Linked DNA regions of Homo sapiens. The protein of the gene in region 3 interacts with the protein of the main gene of each other region in a pairwise test. Each region holds a gene or a part of one and is shown on either strand. Other genes may lie near its edges. The genes, in order: ATXN1, RAP2A, FKBP2 and S100A9.

Region 1 (7,024 bases), on a different chromosome or scaffold from region 3:
GGCCAGAATGGGGAAGATCAACCAAACAAGGAAAAAGCCAAAAGGGAATGAGCTTTAACTATATAGCACACTGGTCAGACTCTATTGGCACAGAAAGTATTGCACATGCTAAAAAAGCAAGAGAATGAAATGGGACAAGTGTTTAGAAAGAACCAATTATTTTATAATTCCTATACCTGAAATAGAACCACAAAAATTATGATGATGTTCCTATTGCTCCAAACCATGTGTGTTTTCCCATCTTAGTGTTGGTTTAGTGGATCCAGTCAATTCAATACTCGAAGTAAGCCAAAAGGTGGTGTGTGTTTTTCTGAGTCCACATGAGTTGTAAATAGTGATATTAATGAGAACAAAGTCTATGTGGCAGCCCGTATTCCTCTTACCATCAAAGGCTAAAAAACAAAAAGAAAAACAAAACCTAATAATTGCAAGTGCCCTGAGCAGAATATATGGAAGATTAAGCAAGTTCTCTGAACAGAAACGTTTAAAAAATACAGCACTAAATAAGCAGTATGACTGCAAGAATGAGCCCACCCAGCTCTCTGCAAGCATGCTGAGAGGGTAATGAAATTCGAGGAAAGTCAAGGAACTATTCTAGCTATTCTAAACCTATTCAAATGTTTTTGGTACACCCCAGAAAACGGTTTATAAAAATCATTAGTCCTGGTGAACCCTAAATGTAAATGAATACTAGACAGCCAAAATGTGGGTTGATACCAGATTTTTTTTTTAATTTGTGAAACGAAGAAAGTACTATTTTCAATGGGGTAAAAGAAAAGTCAGGTATTTGTTCAGTTTAGTTGCAGCCATCCAAGTAAGAATATTTAAAAATTTCTCCCTACTTATAAAACTTTTTTTTAAAGCACTTTAAAGATGCATTCAAAACCCACAAATGATATTTCGGATCTCTGGGAATGAAAGGTTTAAAAACTATGAAATACCCTTTCTGGGTTTGTACCAAACATTAAATCTCGATTTGATTTTGAATAGAAAAAAAAAAGCCATTCTGAAAATAACATTAATAACAACAATAATAAAGTAATTGTTTAAAAAAAATCTTGCTCACATATATAAATGTCTTTATGGAAAACTCTCTCAATGAATCTGAAGAAAATTCTCAGAGTTTCTAAGAGCCCGCTAAGACCTGGCTTTTTGTGACAGATGTGGTAAAAAGACCAAAATGAATTTTCAAAGGAACATAACCTTATAAAATGGCCTAGAGTTTAGGCAGGTTAGAAAGAAATTTTGCTACATTTATTTATGCTCGTTCAGTCCCCCAAACCTTTCCCACAATGTTATTGGATAAAAACTGCAGGAATATCACACAAGTTATAAACTCAATATGTGCAAATCGCAAGGTTCTTTAAAAGTTCATCTTAAAAAGAAAAACACTGGACAAAAATGAGTATTCTCTTCTCCATCCCTTTTCTCTCAGTTTCTCTGCCAACTCTGCATATGCCTTGAACTGATTCTCAGACATCAAAGTGAAAAGTGCCTCCCGTCAGGTAGTACTTGGTGGTCATTTATTGTCACATACTAGTTCATAATTCACATTCATCCCTTTAAACCACATTGAAACTTTCAATATCTTGCTCTTCAGCAATTCTGCAGAGCTGAAATGTAGTTACAGTGTTGAAAAAAAGAAAGCAACTTAGTTTTTTTTGTTTTTGTTTTTTCCCCAAAGAGTTTAAAGTGAGATACAGTACTTGTTGAATGAGAGACCAAGATGCTTGGTAATAAAGTGTGAACAGTATTTTTAAATGCTTAAAGATAGTAATATATGCTCATCTTCAAAATCTAATTCCTCATGTCACACTGGAATCTGAAAAAAAAAAAAAGTGGCACCCGAGTTGTCCATAGTCATGAACTATAAACAGTACTAGAGTTCAAAGACAAAAAGATTTCGCAAACTCAACGTGAAGAGCTTCTGTTGCTCTCACTGAAGGGCAGTTTGCATCTACCTCTTGGGAGTGAAGTCAATGCAATAACCTGATTGGTTTTCCTAACACTGCACAGAAACCAGCGTGGGTGTTCGCTCTCTCCCTCTCCCCCACCCCCAACCCCCCTTACCCCATGTGGGGCCATGACAGCAGGGGCTTCCCTGTCCACCACAACACCCTGGTGACATCGCTGCACTAGTAAAAAGCAGAAATGAAATCCCGCATGTGGCAGTTGCTCTTTAAAAAAAATATATATCAGTGCAGTCAGGCCCCATAGGGGGAAATATATATCTATACAATTAAAAGTTGCTTTTATTGTAAAATATGTTGGAGAGAAAAATGTTCTTTTAAATGGTTAACTTTCCAAATCTGCCATCTGACGCGTCTCCGCGATGCCCTGAAGCTGGGTTCCTGATGTTGATTTTGCACGTGGGAACCCCAGGAGGACACTGCTCTGAACCCCCCCGGCCCATGCCGATAGCAAGAGAGTGAGGCAGAGGGAGGCAGAGAAAAAGAGACCCTCACTCGCCGCCACAGCGCCTGTGCACCCCCACATGCGTGCAACCCTGCACCCCTGCAGGACCCTTCCCACGGGACTTTTCTCCTGACACTAGCGGGAGTCAGCGCCCCCGGCTGCTTCTGTGCCGCTAGAGAAGGCAGGCACTGTGAAGCCCCGTTCCTTTCTTCCCCGGGGATGCCTGGAGCCCTGACCGCTCCTGCTGTGCCCTTCCTCCCGCCCGCTCACTGACAGACACTCGTGGAAAAAGCATATGCACCAGTCTCCTGCGACACACCTGCTGTAACTCTAATGACAAGGTTAGAACAGAAACCTAAAATTAAGAAGATAACATGTAAATACTGTGTTATTTTAGCCTACAGTACAGTAATCTGGATACAAATGATAAGGGAGAGCCACGTTTCCTTTCCCCCACGCTGCCTCTACTTGCCTACATTAGACCGGCCTTCAATGCAAATCTTAACCTCCTGAGGAATTAGAGAAGGCTTAGGAAGAGTCAAAGGTGGTTCGTCTTCTGACTTCTCCAGTTTGCGGCTCTCTGGCGCCGACCACCTCCTCTTCCTCGTTGCCGCGGGCTTGCTGGGTTCTATTTTGGTGAGGAAGGGCGCTGCAGGCAATCCCATTTTCTCTGGAAACTTCAGTTCGCCATTCTCAGAGAGCATCTGGGCACTCCCCTGGTTGATTCCGTTTTCCTGCTCGGCATACCTGTGTCTGCTGCCCGCCAGGCCGTCGGCCTTTGAGTGCTTCAGCAGGACGCTGGCGGGATCCACGGGCTGGCCCTTTTTAACAGAGCCGTTCTTCAGGTTCTTGAGGGTAAGCGAGATGCAGACATCCCCAACTGAGAGTTTGGAACACGGCAAATCAAAGAGCTGGCTGGTTCTCTCCGGACAGCAGGATGACCAGCCCTGTCCAAACACAAAAAAAGGATACTCTACCAAAACTTCAACGCTGACCTGTGGAAACAGGGAGAGACAGAGAGAGGAAGAAGGAAGGGAACAAATGAAAACATTTTATTCTTGTTTGATTTTATGCACACACACAGGTATGAACTCACACAGACACACACAGGCTGAATGGGGGAAAATGACTCAGTTTGCAAACCTCCCTCTCCCCCAGCCACACACTATAAATGAGGCTCTTCTCTTTGGGTTGTACCTCTACTTGCCATAGGCAGAAGCCAGTGAAAAGGTCATCAATATTCAAAATATTCCATCAAGTGTTAGCTCTATAGCTGGTCTCTGTTAGAACCAGTCAATCGAACCCCAGTAATGACAGAGCACCCACTTAGCTTTCAGCACCAAGCTAGGCTCTGCAGGTGGCTCACAAGCCCAGCGCGGTCTTAGATTTTATGAGCTCAATGGACAACTGCTATTATCATACAGGACAGGACTAAACATGGATCAGAGTGAGACTGTGAGTTCCAAGAAGCAGGCACAGTGTGTTTATCACTGAGTCCCCAGCCCCTAAAAGGATGCTTGGTGGCTGGGCACAGTGGCTCATGCCTGTAATCCCAGCACTTTGGGACACCAAGGTGGGTGGATCATTTGAGGTCAGGAGTTCAAGACCAGCCTGGCCAACATGGGGAAACCCCGTCTCCACTAAAAATAAAAAAAAAAAATTAGCCATGCGTGGTGGCGGGCACCTGTAATCCCAGCTACTTGGGAGGCTGAAACACTAGAATCACTTGAACCCAGGAGGCAGATGTTGCAGCGAGCCGAGATCGTGCCACTGGGCGATCCAGCCTGGGCCACAGAGTGAGACTCCGTCTCAAAAAAAAAAAAAAAAAGTCAATTTCCAATGTCCTTTCTAGATGTAGTAGACTAGGTAATTTGGACCAACCCTCCTTCTGAGGACAACTAAAAACTCTGAACAAAAATATAAGCAAACAAATAAATTTAAAAACTCTGGACAAAATGTTTAAACTTTTTTTCTTATAGTACTGGACAGCAAATAAGATAGTAAAAAGGCCAGGCGCGGTGGCTCATGCCTGTAATCCCAGCACTTTGGGAGGCCAAGGCGCGTGGATCACCTGAGGTCAGGAGTTTGAGACCAGCCTGGCTACCATGGCAAAACCCCATCTCTACTAAAAATACAAAACTTAGCCAGGTGTGGTGGTGGGCCCCTATAATCCCAGCTACTCAGGAGGCTGAGGCAGGAGAATCGTTTGAGTCCGGGGGACGAAGGTTGCAGTGAGCCAAGATCGTGCCACTTTACTCTGAGACCAGCCTGGCCAGCATGGTGAAACCCTGTCCCTACTAAAAATACAAAAATTAGCCAGGTGTGGTGGCAGGCGCCTATAATCCCAGCTACTCAGGAGGCTGAGGCAAGAGAATCGCTTGAACCCGGGAGGCGGAGGCTGCAGTGAACCGAGATCATGCCACTTCACTCCAGCCTGGGCGACAGAGTGAAACTCCGTCACACACACACACACACACACACACACACACACACACACACACACACTTCCTGGGTTGGATCAGGAAAAGATGATGGCCCAGAGAGGTGAAGCTGGTGTTGGGGGCCTGTTTTCTCCTGAAGGCACTTGAACATTCCAAAGTGGAGCAGTTGGGAAACCAAGTGGGCTTTTGATAGTGTTAAGAGCATAGGGAACAGGTAATGGAGTTCAGGATACACCAAGGGAGGGTGTTCTCTGGTGAGCCCCATTCTTTTGAGTTGTGACCCCAAAGCACTGTCCCTTAGAGGAGACAGTGAACCACAAGCCAACAGGCCTTTCAAGGTCTGAAGCTCAGATTGACTCATCTGAGTCCCTAAAACTGGATTAAGGTCTTGAATTACTTTCACAATTTTGCAAATAAAAGCATTCAATTTAAAAAAGGGGGGTGGTGGTCATGAGGAGACCAGATAGCTTGTATAAGCACTAGCAAAATATCAGATCTTAAAAAAGGATGCACCAGGGCTTCTCATATAGAGTCATACATATAGACTTTACAAAGACTATGCTTACAATAATTAAGAAGATTAAAGACAGCTTGAGAATTTTGATAGGAAACTAGAATCTGTTTTTAAAAGATCCATGAAGCCAGGCATGGTGGCTCATGCCTGTAATCTCAGTACTTTGGGAGGCTGAGACAGGGAGGATCACTTGAGGCCAGGAGTTTCAGACCAGTCTGGGCAACAAAATGAGACCCCGTTTCTACAGAAATTTAAAAAAAAATAGCCTAGTGTGGTGATGCGTGCCTGTAGTCCCAACTACTCAGGAGGCTGAGGCAGGAGGATCTTGAGCCCAGGAGTTAGAGGTTGCAGTGAGCTATGATCACAAGACTGCACTCCAGCCTGGACAACAGAGTGAGACTCTGTCTCTAAAAAAAAAAAAAATAAATAATAATAATAATAATAATTAATTAATTAAAAAAGGTCTATGAGAATTGTAGAATTAAAATATACACCACTGAAATCAAGAATGCAATGAGCTTTCCAGTTGAATAGACATGGATTAAGAAAGAATTCAGGAACTGGATTCTCTAATTAGAGCTTTAGAAGAGACTCCACAGAGTGAACATAGAGACAAAAAGATGGTCAATATGGAGGAGAGGGTAAGAGACACATAGGATACATTGAGAGGGGCTAACAGACACATAATTTGAATCCTAGGAGGAGGAAGAGAGGGAGATAATAGGGCAGAAGTTAATACTTGAGGAGGTAATGGCTAAGAATTTTCCCAAACTGAAGAAGGATAATAAGACAGTTTCAAGAAGGCCTAGCCCCAAACAGGAAAAATAAACAAAAAGAAATCCTCACTGAGGCAGATGAGAATTAAACTGCTATAAATCAAAGACATCTTGTAAACTAAACAGGAAAAAATATCGTTAAAAGCCTCTAGAACAGGCTGGGTGTGGTGGCTCCTGCCTGTAATCCCAGCACTTTGGGAGGCCGAGGTGGGTGGATTACCTGAGGTCAGGAGTTTGAGACCAGTCTGGCCAACATGGTGAAACCCCATCTCTACTAAAAATGCAAAAATTAGCTGGGCATGGTGGCAGGAACCTGTAATCCCAGCTACTCGGGGGGCTGAGGCAGGAGAATCACTTGAACCCGGGAGGCGGAGGTTGCAGTGAGCCAAGATCGTTGCAGTGAGCCAAGATCGTTGCAGTGAGCCAAGATCATTCCATCACACTCTAGACTGGGCGACAATAGAGAAACTCCATTAAAAAAAAAAAGCCTCTAGAACAAAATACATATTATCTCCAAATAAGCAACAATGGAACTCACAGTTTACATCTCAACAAAAATAATGGAAGCCAGTAGACAATGGAGACAATGGAATATCTTTACAGTGCTAAAGAAAAAGAATTGTCAATGGCGAATTCTATATGGAGCAAAAAGATCCTTCCAGAATGAAGGCAAAATAGAGACATGTTCAGACAAACAGTAATTAAAAGAATTCACCATCAACAGATCTGCATTATAGAAAATACTAAAAGGTATTCTTTAGGTAGAGAAAAAACAAATCTAGATTGAAGTTTGTACAGGGAGGAATGAAGAGGAATGAAAATGGTAGATACATGGTGAATCTGAATGAATATTGGCTATATGTAACAATATTTAAAAT
Region 2 (7,024 bases), on a different chromosome or scaffold from region 3:
TCAGTTTTTTTGACGTTTTGCCTTGGGACTCTCTTGGTAGATGATTTTAACTGTGTGAAAAGATGAATGAGGGGACTTAGAAAAGCCTTTCTGATTCTCATTTCCAAATTCAAAGAGAATTATATTTCAACCTGCTTATCACTAAGAAGATACCAGCATGTTAAAATTCACATGAAGTATGACCTTCTTTAAATACGCTACGATGCAGCACCCTCAAAAGTAAAGTACAGAAACTGACAGTAGTGGTATCTGTCTACAGTTTATCATTGGTGAATAAATGAAGGGAAGAAGGAATTGAGTCTGGACTTGCCGCATATGGAACCATGAACTATACACATAGAATGTTGTTTGGGGTCACAAAGTAGTAGATTAGGCCAGTGATTCCTAAACCCTGCTGAACTTCAGAATCCATCTTCAGAGCTTATAGATATAGACATATTACATATTTTAATAGACTCTTGGGTCCTGATCCCACAGATTTAGATTAACTAGCTCTGGAATAGGGCCCAGAAATCACTATCTTTAAAAGAATTCTCAAGTTGTGTTGATGATCAGCCAAGTTCAGACACGACCAGAATAAAATATATATACGTATACATACCTACATATCAGGACAGTTACAAGAAAGGAGAAAGCAAAATAAAGTATTTTGATAAACACATCAAGTTCTTTTGAGTTACTGATATTTTAAAAAGCTGTCTCGGTGAGAAGCCCATTAACATTCTACAGCTAAGTGATGCTACAGCCAGTATTTCTGATGTTTCATTCAGTCCATTAAGCAGAGCTGCTTAAAAGAACTAGTTTTATTTATTTATACATTTATAATCAGGTTCATGAATACAGTCAACACTATGGAAATTCTTGTCAATAAAAAAGTGTTTGTCCACAGACTACACACAGAAATAAAATTATTAGACCTGCATCAGTCACCGTCTGAGCTGGTCATGCCCTTAAAGGAAATTTCAAGGAAGATGGGCTGAAGTTGGTGAGATATCTGCTGATGTTTAAGATGTAAGCAAGGTGGTATCTTACTCATGATCAGGTTAACAATAACACATACATTGAACAGTTTGAGAATTTTGCATCTTTAGCTTTATGTCCAAATGATGAAAAGGGGGTAAGGAAGAAATGATGAAAAGGGGGAAATGATGAAAAGGGGGAAAATGAAGGCAACCTGCAAAACTGATAATGAAAATAGAACATGAAAGTAACTGTCATCACCCACTAACAAAGCACCTCATCTTCCTAAATAACAGAGTCAGCCCTCTAAGTCAGTCTGTCATAAGTGCCAGATTTGTTTTCTGAGGCCACTTTTGGCACCCGAATTCCTGAGGTCTAGCTTCAAATGAGCATTTCCTCCACTGCCAGAGTCCTGCAGGAGGCTGTAGAGATGGATCCCACAGCTGGTCCCTGCACTGACAGGCATGCTGTCGCCGGCTCAGGCATTGTCTAGGGCATGTCCTGCTTAGAATGCTCTTCCCCTAGAACCTGCACGGTAGGGAGCAGATTCCCAGAAACCCTTCCCATCTTTGTTCACAGCCACTTTCCCAACAAGGCCTGGGATCATCTTATTTAAAACTGTGGCACCTGTGCTCCCCACCCACCACCTGATCCACATCTTTTTTTCCATTGCACTTAACACTTTTATTGTAAACCCAGAATTGACTTGTTATGTTTATTGTTGATGTCTGCGCCCTCTGCTAATTACAGAGCTTTATTTGCTTTGTCCATTGATGTAAGTGTCTAGAATAGTGGCTAGCACTTAGTATATAAATATGTGTTGAGTGGATGGATAAGTACATGATGTATTGATTGTTCGATTGTTCATTACTAGCTATTTATGCCACATCAGGCAGTTTTCAGTATAGCCTTCAGTATTCACGTAGTTAAAACCATCCCAAATATTTGTGTTTGAACAACGTTGTCTGTGAAATGGAACTGCCTAGGTCATGAGTGCATTTTGGAGTTCTGCTGTTGAGTCAGAGCATGCTGGCAGTAGTGGCTCCGCTTGTAGAAGTGAAACCTCCTGCTTATGTTTTGGCCCCATGAGATCTCATAAGATTTCCCCCAACATTTTTGGCTTTACTCCTGATGCACACTTTCATATCTCTTAAAGATCAGCCTGTTGGACGTTATTCTTAGAACAGTGCTAAGCACTCAGCAATTAACCTAGTCAATGATATGTGTTGACTGTGGGTGTGACCCACCATGTCTGTTGTGATTTTTAACTTCAGAGTATCTTAGGAATTATCCAGTCCAGCTCATTTTATACTTCAAGAAACTCAGGAAACCAAGATTAGGTTAATCTTCTAAATTCACAGTACTAGCTAGAGGCAGCCCCTTCTGGGACAGGAGTCCTAGTCTGTTTGGTTTCTTTTTTTTTTAAACCCACCATATTGCTAAAACAGATAGCAACACCAGCTTCCTCATGCAGTGCAGTCATCTACTGTCAACACAGGTCTTGGCTTCTTTCCCTTCAGCGTCTCACCCATCTTTCTTAAGGAGGATCCAGATTTCTCCAAATGTTACCTTCATATGGGACCCTATTCTGTCACCCCAATCCAGAGCCTTCTTAGAATGCCTTTCCCACAGGGGCCAGTATATTCTCTCGAGTGCCCGCTGTTTGGGAATGCTTGCTTTTCTGCTTTCCTAGGCCCCCATCACCATGGATGTTCAGCACAGGGACTCTGGAGAAGCACCTGGTTAGTGTCTGGTGGCTGCTTTGTTGTTTTTGACTCCCATCTTTTTTGCCTGTCTCTTCCTCCAGCTTCACCCTCAACTCGGTTTGCCCTCAGGAGTTCTTTACCTCCTTTGATCAGTTTCTCCGGCTCCTTCTTCACCCTTTGTGGCTTCTCAAGGCCACATCACTAGAGTTAGGAGGGGAAAGAAGCAAGCACCCTCCTTTTATCTAGTACTTCATTTTTTTCAGCATTATCTCATTTGCCCTTTACAGCAACCCTGTGTTAAGTGGGAACAGATACTCTTACTCCCTTTTTACTATCAAAGAAATGAAATACAGATATGTAAAGGAAATGATCTCATTGGCAGAACTGGAAGCAGAGCCTCCAAATCTGGGTGTAGAATCTTTTCTACTGTCCCAAATTTTAACAGAGAGACAAAATTTATCACCGTCTGGTATTCTGAAATGTACATAATTTTTCTCAACATCGTACTCAGTTTAAAAATCTTCTGAGGATATTAATGTGGATTTCTCTAGTGTCTTTAGAAACTTGATTTTAGAAAAGGCCACTGACAAGTTAGTGATATAATAAACAGGTCCTCTGATACTGACTGCATTTTCATCTACATTTACCAGTTATTAAATGCTGTTATATGTGGAACTGTGTTTGCAATATTTTATTTACTGTTTTGAGAATTAGGTTGATGGTAAGATTTATTCAAATTCTTGATTTTAATAATGTATCAATACAACTTAATAATTTGATTTATTTGCAAGTTTTGAAAATCCACATATTCTAGTAGATCCTGAACTTAACTAAAAGTGTAAGAAATATTTCACATATAAAACATGATACAGGCTGGGTGCGGTGGCTCACGCCTGTAATCCCAGCACTTTGGGAGGCTGAGGCGGGCGGATCACGAGGTCAGGAGATCGAGACCATCCTAGCTAACACGATGAAACCCTGTCTCTACTAAATATACAAAAAATTAGTCGGGCGTGGTGGTGGGCGCCTGTAGTCCCAGGTACTCAGGAGACTGAGGCAAGAGAATGGCGTGAACCCGGGAGGCGGAGCTTGCAGTGAGCAAAGATCATGCCACTGCACTCCAGCCTGGGAGACAGAGCGAGACTCCGTCTCAAAAAAAAAATATATATATATATATATTTATATATTTATATTTATATATTTATATAGATATTTATATATTTATATATATTTATATATATATTTATATATATATTTATATATTATATATATTGTATTTAAACATTCTTTAAAATATTTATCATTTATCTCAACTAATAGAAAGTGATCTTATCACTTTTTATTATTCATAGACAGACTGAAATTTGTTTTAACTTAAATTCAACCAATGTTTTACTTAATTTTATTAATGTTTTTAAGTTACTCCACTGTCAAGCAAAGCATTTTAAAGTACACTGTGATGTATATACTTTCATAAGAAAAACGAAATGTAATTACATTTTGCAAGTAACACAAATTGGAAGCTGACATTGTCCTGACATGGCTGGCAGTGTCTGCTCCCTGCCAAGCTTCTCTGTATAGCCAATCAAGAGAGTTTATATGCAAAGTAGCAAATACATGGTGTTTTGTAATGCAGCTTTATTCTCACTGCCACTTGCCCTCCTAGAGGCCATGGGATGCACAAATTGTTTGTATGTAAGAGTCCTAGAAGATGTTAAAAACCCTTGTGTCTTATGTTCAGAGCTGTCAGCATGATCTAAGGCCCGAAATCGTAAGGTACAGTAGTGTACAGTAAATTTATATAAAGTCCTTTGATATAAATTGAAGTTGTCCAAATTCATTTCCTATAAAATGATAATATCCAAATTCTAGGTTTGCCTTTGATGTTGTTCCTTCCACTCATTTTTAAGTTGTTTTCATGTTTCACATTGCCAAATGGCACACTACCTGGAGTATGCCCTCTTGTTGAGACCATTCTTAGTTTGATATAGTGTCAAAGAAAAAAAGTGAGAATGTTGGGAATTTGGTTTGCTTTACAAGTTAGGATGAGTGGAGAGAACCCTCTTGACAGGATGAAGAAATCTGTGGAAGTATCATAGCGAACAATAACCACCTGCCTATTATCCAGTTTCCTGAATGATAAAAATTGTCTATGCATCCTGCCTCAAAGGCTTGACCATGGGGTGGTTTTCTCTTCTGACAGATTTAGCTGTTTCCAGTCACATTTGTTATCACTTTTGTGCGATCTTGCTGTTTAGCTCCTTTAAATCAGAAATACATTCTGCTTATGGGAAGACACACACACACAAACACACACACACACAGATTTATACTAAAATCACAAAAACCTTTTAAAATGTCTTGTGAAAATATATTAGCTATCTTTCTTAGAACAAACATAAAGAAGAATAGTAAATAAATGTGCAGTCCAGCACCAGTGTTGACATCTGTTGTGAAATGTGCTACATGGAGTAACCATTGTAGAGACAATCATCTTAGGCACCAAAATGACTTAGGAGCTTCTTTCTTTGTTCTTTCTTATCACTTACTATTTTTATTAGTTTAGCTTTTTCCAAACGTGTTTACTCAGAGATACCTATTTTAGTTAGGAAGAAAAAGAGAAATAACACCAATTAAAGCTAATTGAGGCTGAATTCTTGTCAGTCTTAAAAGAATCCTAATTGTTTCTCTTTGAACTGACTAATCCATAAAAGTTTTCTGAAGGGATGGGGTGTGGTTGTATTTGATAGCTTCCATTTGGATGATTTCTACTACCTTTTTTCTTGTTTGAGAACTATTAGAACGAACATGATCATTTTTTCAAGCTGGAGTGCGGTGGCACGATCTCAGCTCACTGCAACCTCTGCCTCCCAGGTTCAAGCGATTCTCCTGTCTCAGCCTCCCGAGTAGCTGGAACTACAGGCACCTGCCACCACACCCAGCTGATTTTTGTATGAACATGATCAATTTTATACACATAGAACATAGTAAAATGCTGATAATTATAAGTTGTTTGTTTACTCATTGTAGCTATTTACTGTGTGATCAACTGTGAAATTTTGTGCAACCCTCTCTCAGAATGGAAAAAAAAGAGGATTTAGTCTGAGTTTCTGAGAATAATTTTCCAAGTATATCTGGAAAGGTAAATTGATTTTAAAGGATATATAATTGATTAATTAAAACATCATTTCATAAAACTCATTTTATCATCCACTGTGAGAGCAGCTTCAAATGCCCTCAGATCTAAGTATCAAGCCAAGTGGTACAAATCATTTTCATGCAACTGAAGATACCATTTATGTTGGAATAGCCCCCAAAAACGAAAATACACGTGACCTGTTTAACTTTGTGCTAACTGTTACAATGTATGTGTGTTTTGTTTATTCTCTCATAGGTATGAGAAAGTGCCAGTCATCTTGGTTGGGAACAAAGTGGACCTGGAAAGTGAGAGAGAAGTATCGTCCAGCGAAGGCAGAGCCCTTGCTGAAGAGTGGGGCTGCCCCTTTATGGAAACTTCCGCTAAGAGTAAAACAATGGTGGACGAACTCTTTGCAGAAATTGTGAGGCAGATGAACTATGCTGCTCAGCCTGACAAAGATGACCCATGCTGTTCTGCATGTAACATACAATAGCATCCAAATATGGCTGTCCTGGATGGGATTTGCCCAATGTCGTAGGTGATAGAAAACTCGCCTACTCCACTGCAGAACTTGCAGAATGCGTGGTGTTAATCTACAGAGAACTGCAGCCCTTATTCAGAATTGAGCAGTGATTGTCAGTTGATATCTCTGAGTAACATTTGGGTTCAGTAACTACAGTTTTCACCATTTGTCCTCAGTCTCCTTTATGCATCTGCAACTTTAAGGCATAGTCCATCGATCTACAGGGTGATCTCATTTGAAAGCTATGATGGCATTGTCGCTGAGTTGACAGAAGCAACTATTGTACAAATTAAAAATAACCATAAGGGAGAAACCAGAAGAATTCCTCTGACCACTTACAATTAAAATATTTTGTCTTCTTTAAAAAAATAAGTAAAGGAGAAATATTTTCCTACAAGAGTACTGAATTTCAGGAAATGGGATAGAGCTTCTAACCAATGTATTCCGTCAAGTAAGATAATAACAGCTGACCTGCCAACAGCATTACAGGGAGATTCTTTGCTCAGCTAACACATTTCTGTTTTTCAAAATTGATGCTTAATTGTAGCTGTTATTCTAATTTGTGACATGGAACTAACTCATGCTTCAATCCTTGATAGAGCAAAACTCAGAACAGGTTATGTAAAAATATAGTCTGGCTTTAGAATTTGTTAATTCACCTGCTTTGCCACAGAAAATGGAGGCTTTCACAAGGGT
Region 3 (6,830 bases):
CCTCTTTCTCCTCCCACCCGTCCCCCACTTTCCCTTTTCCTCTGCTCCCCAAGCCTGTGTTCTCTGCCCCGACCCCAGCTCTAGGGAAGACTCTTCCTTCCCACCCCAGACATGTCGCTTCTCCTCCCTAGGGCTGCCACTCCCCACCACCGTCCCCAGCCCCGTTCTGTTCCGGGCTGGGACTCTGCCCCCGGAGCACCCTCCCCAGCTGACATCACCCATCCCACTCCAGCCCCAGGCCCCTCTGCCCACGCTGCACCCAGCACCACCAGCGCCCTGACCCCCGGACCTGCCGCTGCCGCTGCCGACGCCGCAGCTTCCTCCGTTGCCAAGGGCGGGGCTTAGAGCTCAACCCAGACACCTGCAGGTGAGGCGTCTGTGGGGTGGTGTTTGTTTGGGAAGGCACCAAGGCCCTGTCCTGGAGCAGGTCCAGGGTGAGCCTGCCAGTAGGAGGAGGGCCAGGGAAGGGGAAACTGTTGAATGTGTTGAACAAATATTTACCAAACAGCTGCTGGCACCTGGAGCTGTATAAGCAAGTCCAACATTCTAACTCAGGAGTCAGATACAGGAGGGACAATGCCAGCAGAGGATGTCAAGGGCTGTGGTGAGGGGTACCTGGCCTCGTCTTTCAGAGGTCAGAGATCTCTTGGAGGAGGTGACATCTGCCCGGAGTAGAAATGTAGGACACAGCTTTTCCAGCTTGCAGTTCGGGCCTTCCCAGAAGCCCCTGTGGTAGACATCTGCCCTTACCTACGGGCTTCAAGAGGCCAGGGGACATAGTGGAACCCTTGTCCACCCTTACCTGATGTGTTTCTCACCATCCGTGTCCCGCAGTGAGGCCATGGGGTGAAATCATATGGGCAGGGCCAGTGGGGGCTCCCGAGGAGTGTCAGGAGGGGATGACCTTTGCAAAAGGTTCATCCTTCGCCCTGCAGCCTCCAGTGCCCAGGGCCGAGTGGTGTGGCAGGATGCTCAGGTTGTGATCTTAGTGGGCCCGAGGCACACATGAGTCCAGGGCTGGGGCTGCGCTCCAGCCAGCATGAACAGATCACTTCCTCCCTCCTCAGGTGCCGGAAGCTGCGAAGGTGACACATGGCTTTTCAGACTCAGCAGGGTGACTTGCCTCAGAGGCTATATCCCAGTGGGGGAACAAAGAGGAGCCTGGTAAAAAACAGCCAAGCCCCCAAGACCTCAGCCCAGGCAGAAGCTGCTCTAGGACCTGGGCCTCTCAGAGGGCTCTTCTGCCATCCCTTGTCTCCCTGAGGCCATCATCAAACAGGACAGAGTTGGAAGAGGAGACTGGGAGGCAGCAAGAGGGGTCACATACCAGCTCAGGGGAGAATGGAGTACTGTCTCAGTTTCTAACCACTCTGTGCAAGTAAGCATCTTACAACTGGCTCTTCCTCCCCTCACTAAGAAGACCCAAACCTCTGCATAATGGGATTTGGGCTTTGGTACAAGAACTGTGACCCCCAACCCTGATAAAAGAGATGGAAGGAGCTGTCCCTGCCTGTGTCACTGTTTGTCACTGTCCAGGCTGGCTGGTTTGGGCATGAATGTCTGCATCACTAAATCCAGAGCTTGTCTTGCTCCCTCATTGTGCAGATGGAGGAAATGAGGACTAAGGCCCCACAGCAGATCCCAGGCAGGGCCAGAATTATGTATTCATCACTTTCAAGTTATTGCCACGCATGGGAGTCAGGGATAGCCCAGTCAATACAGACTGCCTGCCCTCCTGCTCTTCACCAGGGTTCTTTTCTAGAAGGAGACAGCCTTCTGTGGCCAGAGAGCTTGGGGTAGGACCCAGATCTACTGAGTGACCTTGCTTGTCACTACCCCTGCCTCTCTGAGCAGCAGTTTCCACATGTGCACATAGAGGGAACAGAAGATTGCTGTGGTTGGCGTCCTCGGGCCCCAGAGAAGTTTGAGACTATCTTTACGTAATAGAAAAGAACACTTGTTCTTCCTGCCAGGCAGCGCTTTCAGCATCTGCTGCTTTTTGTTCCCTGCAGCTTGAATCTAAAGCCTCAGCACCTGCCCTGTCTTAACTTCACTCCCACCTCCCTGAAAGGGAAGCACCGCAAGTCTGGGGCTGGTGGGCCTGGTTTGGGCGGCAGGCTCCCCTCAACCCAACCCACAGTTTTTTGTTTTTTTTTTTGTTTTTGGACAGAGTCTCACTCTGTCACCCAGGCTGGAGTGCAATGGCACAATCTCCACTCACTGCAACCTCCATCTCCTGGGTTCAAGCGATTCTCCTGCCTCAGTCTCCCAAGTAGCTAGGATTACAGGTGCCCACCACCATGCCCAGCTAATTTTTGCATTTTTAGTAGAGACGGGTTTCACCATGTTGGCCAGGCTGGTCTCGAACTCCTGACCTTGGGTGAACCACCTGCCTCAGCCTCCCAAAGTGCTGAGATTAGAGGCGTGAGCCACCGCGCCCGCCCAACCCACACAGTTTTCTCCACCCTCGCCTCCCTTGCATCCTGCAGCTTCCTTCATCATCAGTTGCTGCCTGAGATTCTCCTGACTTGTCTATCCTAGCCCAAGCCCAGCCCCTACCCTTCTCCCTGCAGCCTCCAGTGCCCAGGGCTGAGTGGTTTGGGGTGGATGAAAGGCCAACCTTGGGCACCACTGCTTTGCCTGCTGAAGCAGGACATTCAGGGGCAGAGTTAACTCAATTGGGCAGCCACTGGGAGGGGCAGCCACCCTAATGGAGGCTTTCTCTGAGGTGTTGGGTCAGAGCATGTGGGTATGATCTTAGTGGGCCTAAGGCAGGAGTGGGTTGAACCAGGAGACAATTCCTGACAGCGATTACTACTTTCAAATCATTTTCTCAGTCATGATGTCACTGGACATGCCATAGGTCAATTAGCATGAGGCAGAAAGGGGTTAGGGCCCCAGAGCTACCGCCTCCAGAGCCCAGTTAGCCCCACCAGTCACGCACAATGCTTCACATGCACCTCCTCACTTTCTCCTCGCTCGATTCTGAGGTCAGCATCATGATTGTCTTCCTTTTACAATTGAGGAAATAGGCTCAGAAAGGCTAACTGGCCGGGGGGATTTGACCTCAACTCAGCTGTCTCCCTAACCTTCAACCTAGGTTTAGCTGCCTCTCAACTGCAGGTTCATTACTTCAGTTGACAGATGTTTGGTGGCTGCTGGGGCGCCTGAAAATAAGTCTGGTGGGGGAACAGGCCCAGCCAGATCATTCCAGTCATGAGTCACAGCCCAGGTGCACAGGTAGAGGTAAGCCTGGCTCCTGGGAGAGAGATGTGGGCAGGAGCATTGGCTGGAAGCCAGGGCTTGTCATTGGACATCATCTCGGTCCTGCAGGGGCCCTGTGGGGTGGGTGTCATCAAGCCCGTGTTACACGCCTGTATTGGATGACAAATTCTACCAAGCACACAGCCGACCGGGAGTTCAAACGTGAGTGTCACTGTGAAGCCCAGGCTCCACAGCGACTGAGGGCCGTGGGCCATGATGAGGCCCGGGAAAACAGGAGTGCTGTGGGAGAGGCTGGGGGCGACTTGAAATGGCGCCTCAAGACCCCCTCCGGGAACCCACGCCCGCCTGACCTTACTATCACCTCGGCCGGAAGTGTCTCCGGCCTTTTCGGAAGTCACTTTCACCTAACCTTACAGACTACCGCTCCGCCGGAAGTGACGCAGGGCAGCGGCGTCGCGGGGGCGGGGCTCGGGAAAGACCCGTGCCAGCGGGCGTGTGGCCGCGGGTTTCGCACGGTCCAATAAGGGAGGGCGGCGTGGCCCGGCCTGGTAGCGACGAGGACGCGCCTGCGCAGAGGCGGCAGCACCACCGGGGTTGACTCCGGGGGCGCGGCGAGGAGGTGAGCGGGGGCCACAGCCCGGGCTGGGGGGAGCCGGGGTGCAAGAGGGCAGGCTGGATCAGGCCGGGCAGAAGCGGACCGGGCTCCGAGTGTCAACGAGAGCTAGGTGACGAGGAAATTGGGGGTGGGGGCCGGAGCTGTCCGGAGATGCCGCAGGGGGAGGGTTCTCACGCCGCACGGGGCGGAGTCCTGGGACTCGGGGCGGGACGTGGAACCGGGACGGGTGGGACCTCCGAGCTGGTGCCAGTGGAAGGCGGAGCCCGGCGGCGGGGGGCGGAGCTAGGAGGGTCGGGGGACGGAGCCTGGCTCTTGAAGGAGGAGCTGGAGGAGGTGAAAGGCGGAGCCTCGGGGTCGGAAGCAGAGGGGGACGGAGCGGAGGCGCTGGGGGCGGGGCTTCAGCCGGTGAGTGGCGTGGCTACGGCTCCGGAAAAGGGGTCTAGTTCTGTCGAAGGCGGGGCTGCAGGCCCGGGGGCGGTACCGCGTCCTCCGAAGGGCGGTGCCAAGGAGCCAAGTGAGGAGCCTGGCCCGAGTAATGGCCCCGGGCGTCCTCGCGGGGGTGGTCTCCGTGGTGGCCGGGCTTGGGGACGCCGTAGGCCGAGAACTCCACCGGGAGAGGTGGTGTGGGTGGAGCGGGCTCGGCGGCCAGCAGACACAGGGCCAGTCTGGGTGCCCCGGAGACCCCCAAGGGCTCAGAGTTGGGGCGGCGCCCCGGGCGGAAGCACAGGGCCAGGCTGGGGGGTATCTCCCGAGGACCCGGGCTCCTCGGAGCCACCCAGTGGGGATGTGTGGGTGCCTCGGGGCCGGCCCCCTGCAGCGGCCGCAGAGGTGTTGGTGTGCTGGACCGGGGGCAGCTGGGTGTGGCGTGAGTGGGGCCGCCCAGTCGGGGCAACTGCAGTGCAGCCAGATAGGGTCTGGACTTTGCGTAAAGGGACAGGCGGGAACTGAAGAGCGGAGGTGGGGACTGGGAGGGAGGGAAGGTATGGGGGTGAGCAAAGGGGCGGGTCCCTGGCTGCTGTGGCCTCCCCTGACCCCCTCCCCCCGCTGCTGGGGTCCTCGGCCAAGCCCCCTTCTCACTGGACTGGTAAGTGTGGCCCCGGAGCCCGGGGGAGAGGGCGGTGACCCGGGACAAAGGGGATCCCCCGGGGCAAGGAAGATACAGTGGCGGTGGAACCCTCCTGTTACCTACCCGTGTTCCATACTCTCCCTGCCCTCCCCCACGTTCAGTCGGTCGGTCGGGGTCTGTGCCCACAGAGACATGAGGCTGAGCTGGTTCCGGGTCCTGACAGTACTGTCCATCTGCCTGAGCGCCGTGGCCACGGCCACGGGGGCCGAGGGCAAAAGGAAGCTGCAGATCGGGGTCAAGAAGCGGGTGGACCACTGTCCCATCAAATCGCGCAAAGGGGATGTCCTGCACATGCACTACACGGTGAGTGGGTTGGGCGGGCCTTTTGGGAGTGGGTGGGGCTTCCGAGGACCAGAGAGTGCTTGGGAGTCTGGTTCTCCATAAGCCAGGTAGGTGACCTTGGGCAAGTCCCCTCTCGCCTCTAAGCCAGTTTCCATGGTTCTGCCTTGCCCTTGCCTACTGCCCAGGTGGGCACCAGCAGGCAGTGACAGTGTACTGTGAGCTGCCCAAGGCTCTGTCCTCTTAAAGAACTATGACCAGCTGGGCGCAGTGGCTCACCCCTGTAATCCCAGCACTTTGGGAGGCCGAGGCGGGTGGATCACCTGAGGTCAGGAATTTGAGACCAGTTTGGCCTCATGATGAAACTTTCTCTGCTAAAAATACAAAATTAGCCAGGCGTGGTGGCGGGCGCCTATAATCCCAGCTACTTGGGAGGCTGAGGTGGAAGAATTGCTTGAACCCGGGAGGCAGAGGCTGCAGGGAGGCGAGATCACGCCGCTGCACTCCAGCCATGGCAACAGAGACTCCATCTCAAAAAACAAAAAGGACTGACCACCAGGGCTGTGGGTGGGCGTGGGGGGGCAGCTTGATGGGGAAAGCAGCTGAGGGAGGGGGTGTCAGGGGTGGTCCCCTCTTCCTCACTGGCCTTCTCATGGTTCCACAGGGGAAGCTGGAAGATGGGACAGAGTTTGACAGCAGCCTGCCCCAGAACCAGCCCTTTGTCTTCTCCCTTGGCACAGGCCAGGTCATCAAGGGCTGGGACCAGGGGCTGCTGGGGTGAGTCATGGGGGAATGGGCTTGGGAGTGGGGGCGTGCATGGCCACCGCCCAGGAGGTAAGCTGTGGGAGGCAAGCCCCAGGGATACAAGACAAGGGCCCTGGGTGCTGCCATGGGCTGAGCATGTGTCTTCCTGCAGGATGTGTGAGGGGGAAAAGCGCAAGCTGGTGATCCCATCCGAGCTAGGTAAGAGGCCCCTCCTGAGGGTGCAGAGCGAGTTTGGGGTGTGTGACTGGGAAGGGTGAAAGCTGCTTCAGCTTTTCATTGGTCTTCACCGTATCCATTCATTACAATACATGCCTCCTCCAAGTTTGGCTGTGTCTAGCAGTGAGTACAGGGCAAGATCATTGAAGCACTCAGCTGTAGTGGCCCCACTCTGCCCTTGCCAGGCCTTTGGCACCCCCTTCCCATCTCCATTACCCTTCTCCATTTCTGGCCTTCTTGCTGAGAGGGGCGGAACACTCTCCCTTTGCCCACACTGGAAGGGAGCTTGGCCATCACTGACTGTTTCTTTGTGCATCTTCAACAGGGTATGGAGAGCGGGGAGCTCCCCCAAAGATTCCAGGTAGTAAACCTTTTGATACCTCCCATCACCTGCAGCCAGCCCACCTCCCTGTGGCCCTGGTTGGCATTTTGACTCCCCTTCTCCCCTACAGGTGGTGCAACCCTGGTGTTCGAGGTGGAGCTGCTCAAAATAGAGCGACGAACTGAGCTGTAACCAGACTGGGGAGGGGCAGGGGGAGAGGCCCCCATCAGGGACCAGACTGTTCCAAAAAAAAAACAAAAAACAAAAACAAACAAAAAAAC
Region 4 (7,393 bases), on a different chromosome or scaffold from region 3:
AGCTTGATGTGGACTGAGCCCAAACGTGGTAGAACAATGGTCTGAAGCTACCCGTGGATAGCTTCTGTAAGTCATCCTAATGCACTAGAGTCTAGAATGAGCACTGGGGAAATGGGGGATGTTAGGGCGCTTGTGGTTAGGAGACCCGTACCCAGAGATCTCCAAGGAAGAGCACTTGGGACTCCCAGCAAGGAGGAAGACAGGGAGTGGAGGAATAGGCAGCAGGCTGTGCGCAGCCTGAGTGGGGCTGGGCCTCAGGCATCAGAGTCCCTGTGAGGAGAGGGACCTGACTTCACCTGCAGGTGGAGCAAGTAAGCCAGGAGACAGTGTCCAGGGGCCATGAGGCTAGTAGTAGTCATGAAGCCCACCAAGAGTCCATCAAAACTTGGAATCTGTGCTAGAAATGACCTAAGGGTCAGCTGTCCCAATCTCCTCATGTAATGGATAAGAAAATGGAGGCCCGAACATGGAAATCACTTCTAAAGACCACCAGCAAGTCTGAGAAAGCTAAGGACTAAAACCAGCTCAGTCCCTCAGTCCGGGTCCCACTGTGTGCCTGCTGTAACACCCCCATTACAACACAGGAGGGGTAAAGCTCCCTGAAAGACCACAGTGGGAGCTGCAGAGAAGGGAAAGACAGACCCGCAGTGGGTCCCAGGCATCTGGGAAAGAGCACAGTGATTTGATGGTAGCTGCAGGAACCTCTGCCTGCTTGTTTGTTTACTTGCTTGGTTGTTTGTTTGTTTGAAATGGAGTCTCACCCTGCCACCCAGGCCAGAGTGCAATGGCGCGATCTTGGCTCACTGCAACCTCTGCCTCCCAGGTTCAAGCGGTTCTCCTACCTCAGCCTCCTGAGTAGCTGGGATTACAGGTGCGCACCACCACACCCGGCTAATTTTTTGTATCTTTAGTAAAGATGGAGGTTTCACCATGTTGGCCATGCTAGTCTCGAACTCCTGACCTTGTGATCCACCCGCCTCGTGCTCCCAAAGTGCTGGGATTACAGGCGTGAGCCACCGTGCCCGGCCACTTATTTGTTTTTTAACCCAAAAAGCCACACCCTTTTCTCCCAGTGAAAACCTCGAGTCATTGTACAGAGCCAGGAAAATTGGCCCACCCACTTCATGCCCTAGCAGAAGGCTCCGACTTTCCCTGGAAAATCAGTACCCAGAGGGGAAGACCCCCATCCCACCATCCCTCAGTCCAACCTCTGGCCTCGGCTGGCAGTGAGGAGGCAGGTGGGTGTCGGCCACCTACTGATCATGCCAGGAATTGTCTGCTCCGGTCAGAACCAGAATGGCTCAGCCCTGGCCTCACCTGCGCCTGGGCTAGCCTGGAACCTGGGGGCCTGCAGTGGCCTTCTAAGATGGGGGCCCACTGTCAGCATCAGATCCCCCAAGTGCAGATTCCCGTCTGTTTTGAAACCCTGACCAGCTGCTCATTCCCACCCACTGCTGAGCCTTCTCTCCCCCAACTCCCTATTTTACTTTCATTCTGAATCAGCACTAAATGACCACAGTCAGTGGCTCTGCAGAAAGTCACAGAACAGAGGGTGACAGGCCAGTGTTTATGTCACATTCACTCATTTCATCATTGATTCATGCACTCCTGAATTTATTCAATCAACAAGCGTTCATCCAGTGCCTCTGAGCCAGCCCTTGCCTGGTGCTAAGACTTTGGAGGGTAGCAGGCAGCATCCCTGCCTAGAGGAGCCACAGTGGTGTGGAGGAATCAGAAAGTCCACCTGAAAGTTGAGAGCTCCATGACAAAGCAGAGATGCCTGCCGCACACCATCACTCAGGGTTTGAGTCACACACACCCTGCTTCATTGTCATGCTTTTTTTGTTTTTATTTTAAATTAATGGACAAATTGTATTAAACAGGAATTTTCATATAAAGCTTCAGATGTCCTGGGCCCTCAGGAGGTCCAAGAACATCTGGTCTACTTTCCCACGTGGCAGCCCTGGCCTGACACTGGCTGTCCCTTCAAGGTAGGAACGTTCTCATTCCCCACAGTTGCCACCACTGTCCAGTGTCCCCAACCCTGAGGCCCCATATCAGTGGCCACAAGTTGCCCTACTGCTGCCGTTGATGTTCTCATGCCCCACCAGCTTCACCTTGGGTCTGGTTCCCGCAAGGGTGAGTTGGAGATCCTTGGTCCTGAGTGAGAAGTGCTTTGTCAGAGGCAGCAGAGGGCGCCATGGGAGCACACAGGAAGGGCGCCTGGGGCTGTGCAGGGACTGCAGAACAGGCTGCACTGGCACACAGGGTTGGCTGCTGGCTGCTGGCTGCTGGCTGCTGGCTGGGTTTCCTCTATTAGCTTAAACAATGGAAGGTGGACTTGGATAGGAAATCTACCTCATGTATTCCTGAGCTGTGTCTGCACCGTTCATTCATTCGTAGGCGACTCATGTATTCAAGCACTCATTTATTTATTAGATGCTTGCTGTGTGCTTAGCACTGTGCCAAGCCCTGTCCTTAGCTACCAAGAGTTTAAAACGTAATTTGGAAGACAGGATATAAGATTATGTCTCCCCTTTGTATTGCGACTCACTCATCAAGTTCTCCCAGCATCTAGCATTCATATCTGGCACTCAGTAGGTGCTCAACAAATATTTGTTGCATAAATGAATGAAAAGATTATTAGTAATAATACCTTTTATTTACTGAGCTCTTCCCAACTTTCCATGTATTGTCGCAATCCTCAAGGTAAGTCCTGATATTATCCTATTTTATTGATAAGAAAAGTAAGGCACAGAGAAGTTAAGTAAACTGCCTAAGGTCACACAGACAGTCTGAAGTCTTAACCACTACTCCAGGTGCATCTCAGCAGTGTGAGGCAGGCCATGCTTAGGGCCAATGCTTAGCACACACAGAGATTGCCTCAGGCTTTCAGAGGACAAAGCAGTCAGGAGGGGCTGGGGCAATAAAGGAAGGCTTCATGGAGACAGAACAAAATAACCAGTGCAGGTAGAAGAAGAGAACCATCTTTCCTGATAGAGAGAGGGGGCAGCAAGCAAGAGGGAGTCCCAGGGTGGATCATCCATACTGGCTTCCAGGGGTGACGGGAAAGGATGCCAGCAAGGACTTCAGCAAGGATCAATCAGCAAATCCGAGGGTGTCTCTCTTGCCAAGCCCCGGGCTGTGTGCATAGGAGAAGGAGAACATGAATGAGAACCTACCTTTGAGGATCTACAGCCAATTGTTGGACAGAGGCAAAATATGTATATAATTTTACTCCAGGAAAGCAAGTGTTGAGAGCCAGAAGTGGTATGAGAATCATAGTCAGGAAGACAGAAACTGTTTCCAAATGGGAAGCACAGAGCAGTCTCCTTGGAAGAGAGTGCATTAGAACTGAGCCGTGGGGGCGGGCAGGATATCACTGTGGAGTAGGGGAAGGGCACTCCTGGGGTGGCAAGGTGGGAGGTGGGCCCTGTGTTCCCACAGTGGGCAGGGAGGTAGTGAAAGGGAAGCTGGCCGGACAGGCAGGGCCATTCCAAGAGGGCTTTGTGCGCAGGGCTAAGCCAAGCTTTCTCCATAGGCAATGGGGAGCAACTGGAGGTTCGTAGCAGGAGAAGGACACATCTTGCCCACCAGGAGGCTAAGTAAAAACAGTTGTCTCCCAAGTTATAAGTTCCTGGAACCCTTGCTGGGAGCAGGATTTAGAAAAATGATGCTGAGAGATGCTAGAAACATATTCGCCCTGAGGCTCTCTCACTCAGACTGCAAGAGGAAGGTATCATCAGAATTGCCCTTAACCAGGAACCAGAATAGCTGGGTCCCCTTCCTGCCAAGTCAGCAACCAGCTATGTGACCTTGCTCAGGTCCATCTCCGGGTGTCAGTTTCTTCATCTACAATGCAAGAGGGTTGCCCACCTCTGAGAACCCTTCTAACCCCAAATCTCACCCTATGAATCTAAGAACACCAACCCCTCGCCATCCTAAGTATCACAGAGCCAGGCAAGCATGGGTGAGAGCTCAGACCATCCTTGTTGGACTAAAAGGAAGGGGCAGACTGCCCATGGGGGGCAGCCGAGAGGGTCAGGCCCCCATAGGTCCTCAGCCTGCTTCAACCTCAAAGGGGATGGGGGGCTGAGTGGTGCCAGAGGAGCAGCAGGCTCGCTCGGGGAGAGTAGGGCCTTAGGATAGAAGGGAAATGAACTAAACAACCAGCTTCCTCCCAAACCAGTTTCAGGCCAGGGCTGGGAATTTCACAAAAAAGCAGAAGGCGCTCTGTGAACATTTCCTGCCCCGCCCCAGCCCCCTTCCTGGCAGCATTACCACACTGCTCACCTGTGAAGCAATCTTCCGGAGACAGGGCCAAAGGGCCAAGTGCCCCAGTCAGGAGCTGCCTATAAATGCCGAGCCTGCACAGCTCTGGCAAACACTCTGTGTGGCTCCTCGGCTTTGGTAAGTGAGCTGCCAGCTTCCCCAGGCAGAAGCCTGCCTGCCGATTCCTTCTTTCCTTCCCTGACCCAACTTCCTTCCAAATCCTCCTCCTAGAAGCCCTCCTTGGTTGGCCCTGCCTACTTTAAAGCTTCTTTCACATTTTCTTAGGTCATGTTCCCCTGGGGCCTCCTGCCCTCAAATGCTTTGCTTTTTGGCACTCTGTAGATATTCTAAAAAATCATTTTGTACATGTGTGTGACAGGCCATCTCCCAGTTAAGTTGCAGCCTGTGCTTTCTTTTTATTTTGCACTTCCCCCACTATTTCTGTGAGTGCTTAGTAGGAAGTGTCAAAGAAGCTTGACAGCATTTTCTTCTAAGTGTCCCAACTCTTGGTTTTCCATTACACAGACAGAGTGCAAGACGATGACTTGCAAAATGTCGCAGCTGGAACGCAACATAGAGACCATCATCAACACCTTCCACCAATACTCTGTGAAGCTGGGGCACCCAGACACCCTGAACCAGGGGGAATTCAAAGAGCTGGTGCGAAAAGATCTGCAAAATTTTCTCAAGGTAGGGCTGGACTCTGGCAGGTCTGACCCAGCCTCACCGCAGTTTGGGTTGACAAGGGAGGATGGGAGTATGGGCTACAGCAATCAAGGGGAAGATTTGAGCTCCTGGAGCCCAGCCCCAAGACGCAGCGAGTGTCCTGTTATACAGGGCAGGTGCTCACAGTTACACAGGACGACAGGGTCAAGAAATTGCTCAATTGAACACCTGCTATTTGTCGGGCCCTGTTCTGGGCAGAGGGATGTAGTGGTAAATGGGGAGCCCACTATTCCAGTGGAGGGAGACACACAGTAAAGTTGTTGGCCAATAAAGAGCACAGATAAAGCCAAATGCCAATAAGTGCCTGGAAGAAAATGAGATAGAGTGCGCTGTGGGCAATGGGGCTGGGTGGGGTGGAGGTGACCAGTTAGGGTACATGAGAAGGGCCTCTTTGAGGAGGTAACATTTGAGCTGAGCCCCGAATGTTGGGGAGGGAAGCCCCTGAGGATGACACTTGGCACAAAGCTGAGGAGACCCTAAGCCTCAGGCGGGAACTTGGGGTGGAAGACTTGGGGGCTTTTCTAATCCTAAGGGTCTGCGGTGGAAAATGAATGCATAAAGAGCACATGGAGAGCACCTGCACAGCACTCAGGGAACTGGGAGGTTTTTCCCCCGCTCCAAAAATGATTAGGCAGTTCTAAGAAAAAGGCTGAGCACTTCCAACAGCCTTTTTGTTTTCTTTTCAAATTTGGGGAAAGTCGGGAAACAGAGGCCTGCATTAAGAAGGGTGGAACACATGGGTCTCAGTCTCAGTTCCAGTCCCGGAGCCAGACATCCTGGGGTAGGTCCCCAGCCCTCCCAGTGCCCCTCCCTCCGCCTTGGTAAGGTGGAGAATTGCAGCCTTCAGAGTTAGGGGCCCTGACAGCTCTCCATAGGTGGAGGCCTCAGGCAGGCAGGATGCTGGGTGGGGTAGGCAAGAAAGGGCCCAGCAGAGAGGCCGCATGGCAAAACTATCCTCCATGTGACCCCCTATGCCCGCTTCACCCCCCACCTGACATCCCCCACCAGAAGCAAAGCGATGCTGTGGGAAAGGAAGCAGAGCCTCATGGATGGGCTGCACAGGAGAGTGCTCGCATTGGCTGGGTACCCCACAGGTTCTGGGAGGGGACTTAGCGAGGTGACTCAGCCAGAGGGTGGCAGAGCTGGAACCAACCAGTGCTCTCTTGGACCCCGCCTGGGTCTGGGTCTTCCACCTCCCCTGATGTCTCTCCTTTTTTTTTTTTTTTTTTTTTTTTTGAGACAGAGTTTCGCTCTTATTGCCCAGGCTGGAGTGCAACGGCACAATCTCGGCTCACCACAACCTCCACCTCCTGGGTTCAAGCGATTCTCCTGCTTCAGCCTCCAGAATAGCTGGGATTACAGGCATGCACCACCATGCCTGGCTAATTTTGTTATTTTTTGTAGAGACAAGGTTTCTCCATGTTGGTCAGGCTGGTCTCGAACTCTTGACCTTAGGTGATCTGCCTGCCTCGGCCTCCCAAAGTGCTGGGATTACAAGCATGAGCCACCCTGTCCGACCATCTCCCCTTTTATACTTTATCACACCCTTGAGGTCAGCGGAGCACATACTCTGCTCTCTGACCCTCCATCTCCCCTGCCCACACCTAGTTTTTCTAGGTGTTTCCCCGTTGTATTGGTTGAAATAAGTTTCACTAATTGGTAACCTCCAGAGGGAAGGGAAGGGAGGGCAGGGGAAGGAGTGAAGTGCAGAGGGGTAGCAGAGTGGAACTGGCCTCTAAGTCAGATCTGAATTTGCATGCCCTCAATAGTCAAGCTGTGAAAACTAATGACCCTCTCTAGGACTGGTTTCAAGTCTTCCTCCAGGAAGATACCATTCCTAGCTGTTAAAGTTGTTATAAGGACCAAATGAGGTGACATTTCCAGGCTTACTCATGCCATGACCAGGGCAAGACCCTGGAACTCAGCTTCCTCTTCTATAAATAGAGAATCAGCACCCAAGTCACAGGGTCATGGAGGGAATAAACTGGAGAGCGTTTGGTATGTGCTCAGTGTCTGCTCCATTGTGCGCACTCAGCCTATGGTCATTTTTAATTTTTAAATCCAGCCCCAGGGTGAGGCTTCCCTTGTACATTTGCCAGCTGGTCATTTACTGTGCTCCCAGTCCCCACCTCTGGCCACACCCAGCTCTCACAGCCTTCTCTCCCCACCCGCAGAAGGAGAATAAGAATGAAAAGGTCATAGAACACATCATGGAGGACCTGGACACAAATGCAGACAAGCAGCTGAGCTTCGAGGAGTTCATCATGCTGATGGCGAGGCTAACCTGGGCCTCCCACGAGAAGATGCACGAGGGTGACGAGGGCCCTGGCCACCACCATAAGCCAGGCCTCGGGGAGGGCACCCCCTAAGACCACAGTGGCCAAGATCACAGTGG

The links.
Region 1: the proteins of FKBP2 (region 3) and ATXN1 interact in binary tests that used the Homo sapiens proteins (3 or more experiments, as listed by UniProt).
Region 2: the proteins of FKBP2 (region 3) and RAP2A interact in a two-hybrid assay, tested with the Homo sapiens proteins (one study listed by BioGRID and IntAct).
Region 4: the proteins of FKBP2 (region 3) and S100A9 interact in a two-hybrid assay, tested with the Homo sapiens proteins (one study listed by IntAct).

The regions. Positions count from the first base shown.
Region 1 is NC_000006.12:16,303,450-16,310,473, forward strand, and holds part of ATXN1 (ataxin-1), read right to left. Parts: intron 3,411-7,024; coding exon 2,880-3,410; 3' UTR 1-2,879. UniProt on the Homo sapiens protein: Chromatin-binding factor that repress Notch signaling in the absence of Notch intracellular domain by acting as a CBF1 corepressor. Binds to the HEY promoter and might assist, along with NCOR2, RBPJ-mediated repression. Binds RNA in vitro.
Region 2 is NC_000013.11:97,458,145-97,465,168, forward strand, and holds part of RAP2A (ras-related protein Rap-2a), read left to right. Parts: intron 1-6,060; coding exon 6,061-6,298; 3' UTR 6,299-7,024. UniProt on the Homo sapiens protein: Small GTP-binding protein which cycles between a GDP-bound inactive and a GTP-bound active form. In its active form interacts with and regulates several effectors including MAP4K4, MINK1 and TNIK.
Region 3 is NC_000011.10:64,237,289-64,244,118, forward strand, and holds the start of FKBP2 (peptidyl-prolyl cis-trans isomerase FKBP2 isoform 1 precursor), read left to right. Parts: upstream 1-3,806; 5' UTR 3,807-3,844; exon of another isoform or gene 3,845-3,991; coding exon of another isoform or gene 3,992-4,789; exon of another isoform or gene 4,790-4,925; intron 4,926-5,068; exon of another isoform or gene 5,069-5,095; coding exon of another isoform or gene 5,096-5,099; coding exon 5,100-5,270; intron 5,271-5,910; coding exon 5,911-6,023; intron 6,024-6,162; coding exon 6,163-6,209; intron 6,210-6,552; coding exon 6,553-6,588; intron 6,589-6,679; coding exon 6,680-6,741; 3' UTR 6,742-6,830. Other genes in the region: VEGFB (vascular endothelial growth factor B isoform VEGFB-186 precursor), read left to right, coding at 132-345; uncharacterized protein LOC114841035, read left to right, coding at 3,992-4,789. UniProt on the Homo sapiens protein: PPIases accelerate the folding of proteins. It catalyzes the cis-trans isomerization of proline imidic peptide bonds in oligopeptides.
Region 4 is NC_000001.11:153,353,472-153,360,864, forward strand, and holds the start of S100A9 (protein S100-A9), read left to right. Parts: upstream 1-4,382; 5' UTR 4,383-4,410; intron 4,411-4,797; 5' UTR 4,798-4,812; coding exon 4,813-4,962; intron 4,963-7,172; coding exon 7,173-7,367; 3' UTR 7,368-7,393. UniProt on the Homo sapiens protein: S100A9 is a calcium- and zinc-binding protein which plays a prominent role in the regulation of inflammatory processes and immune response.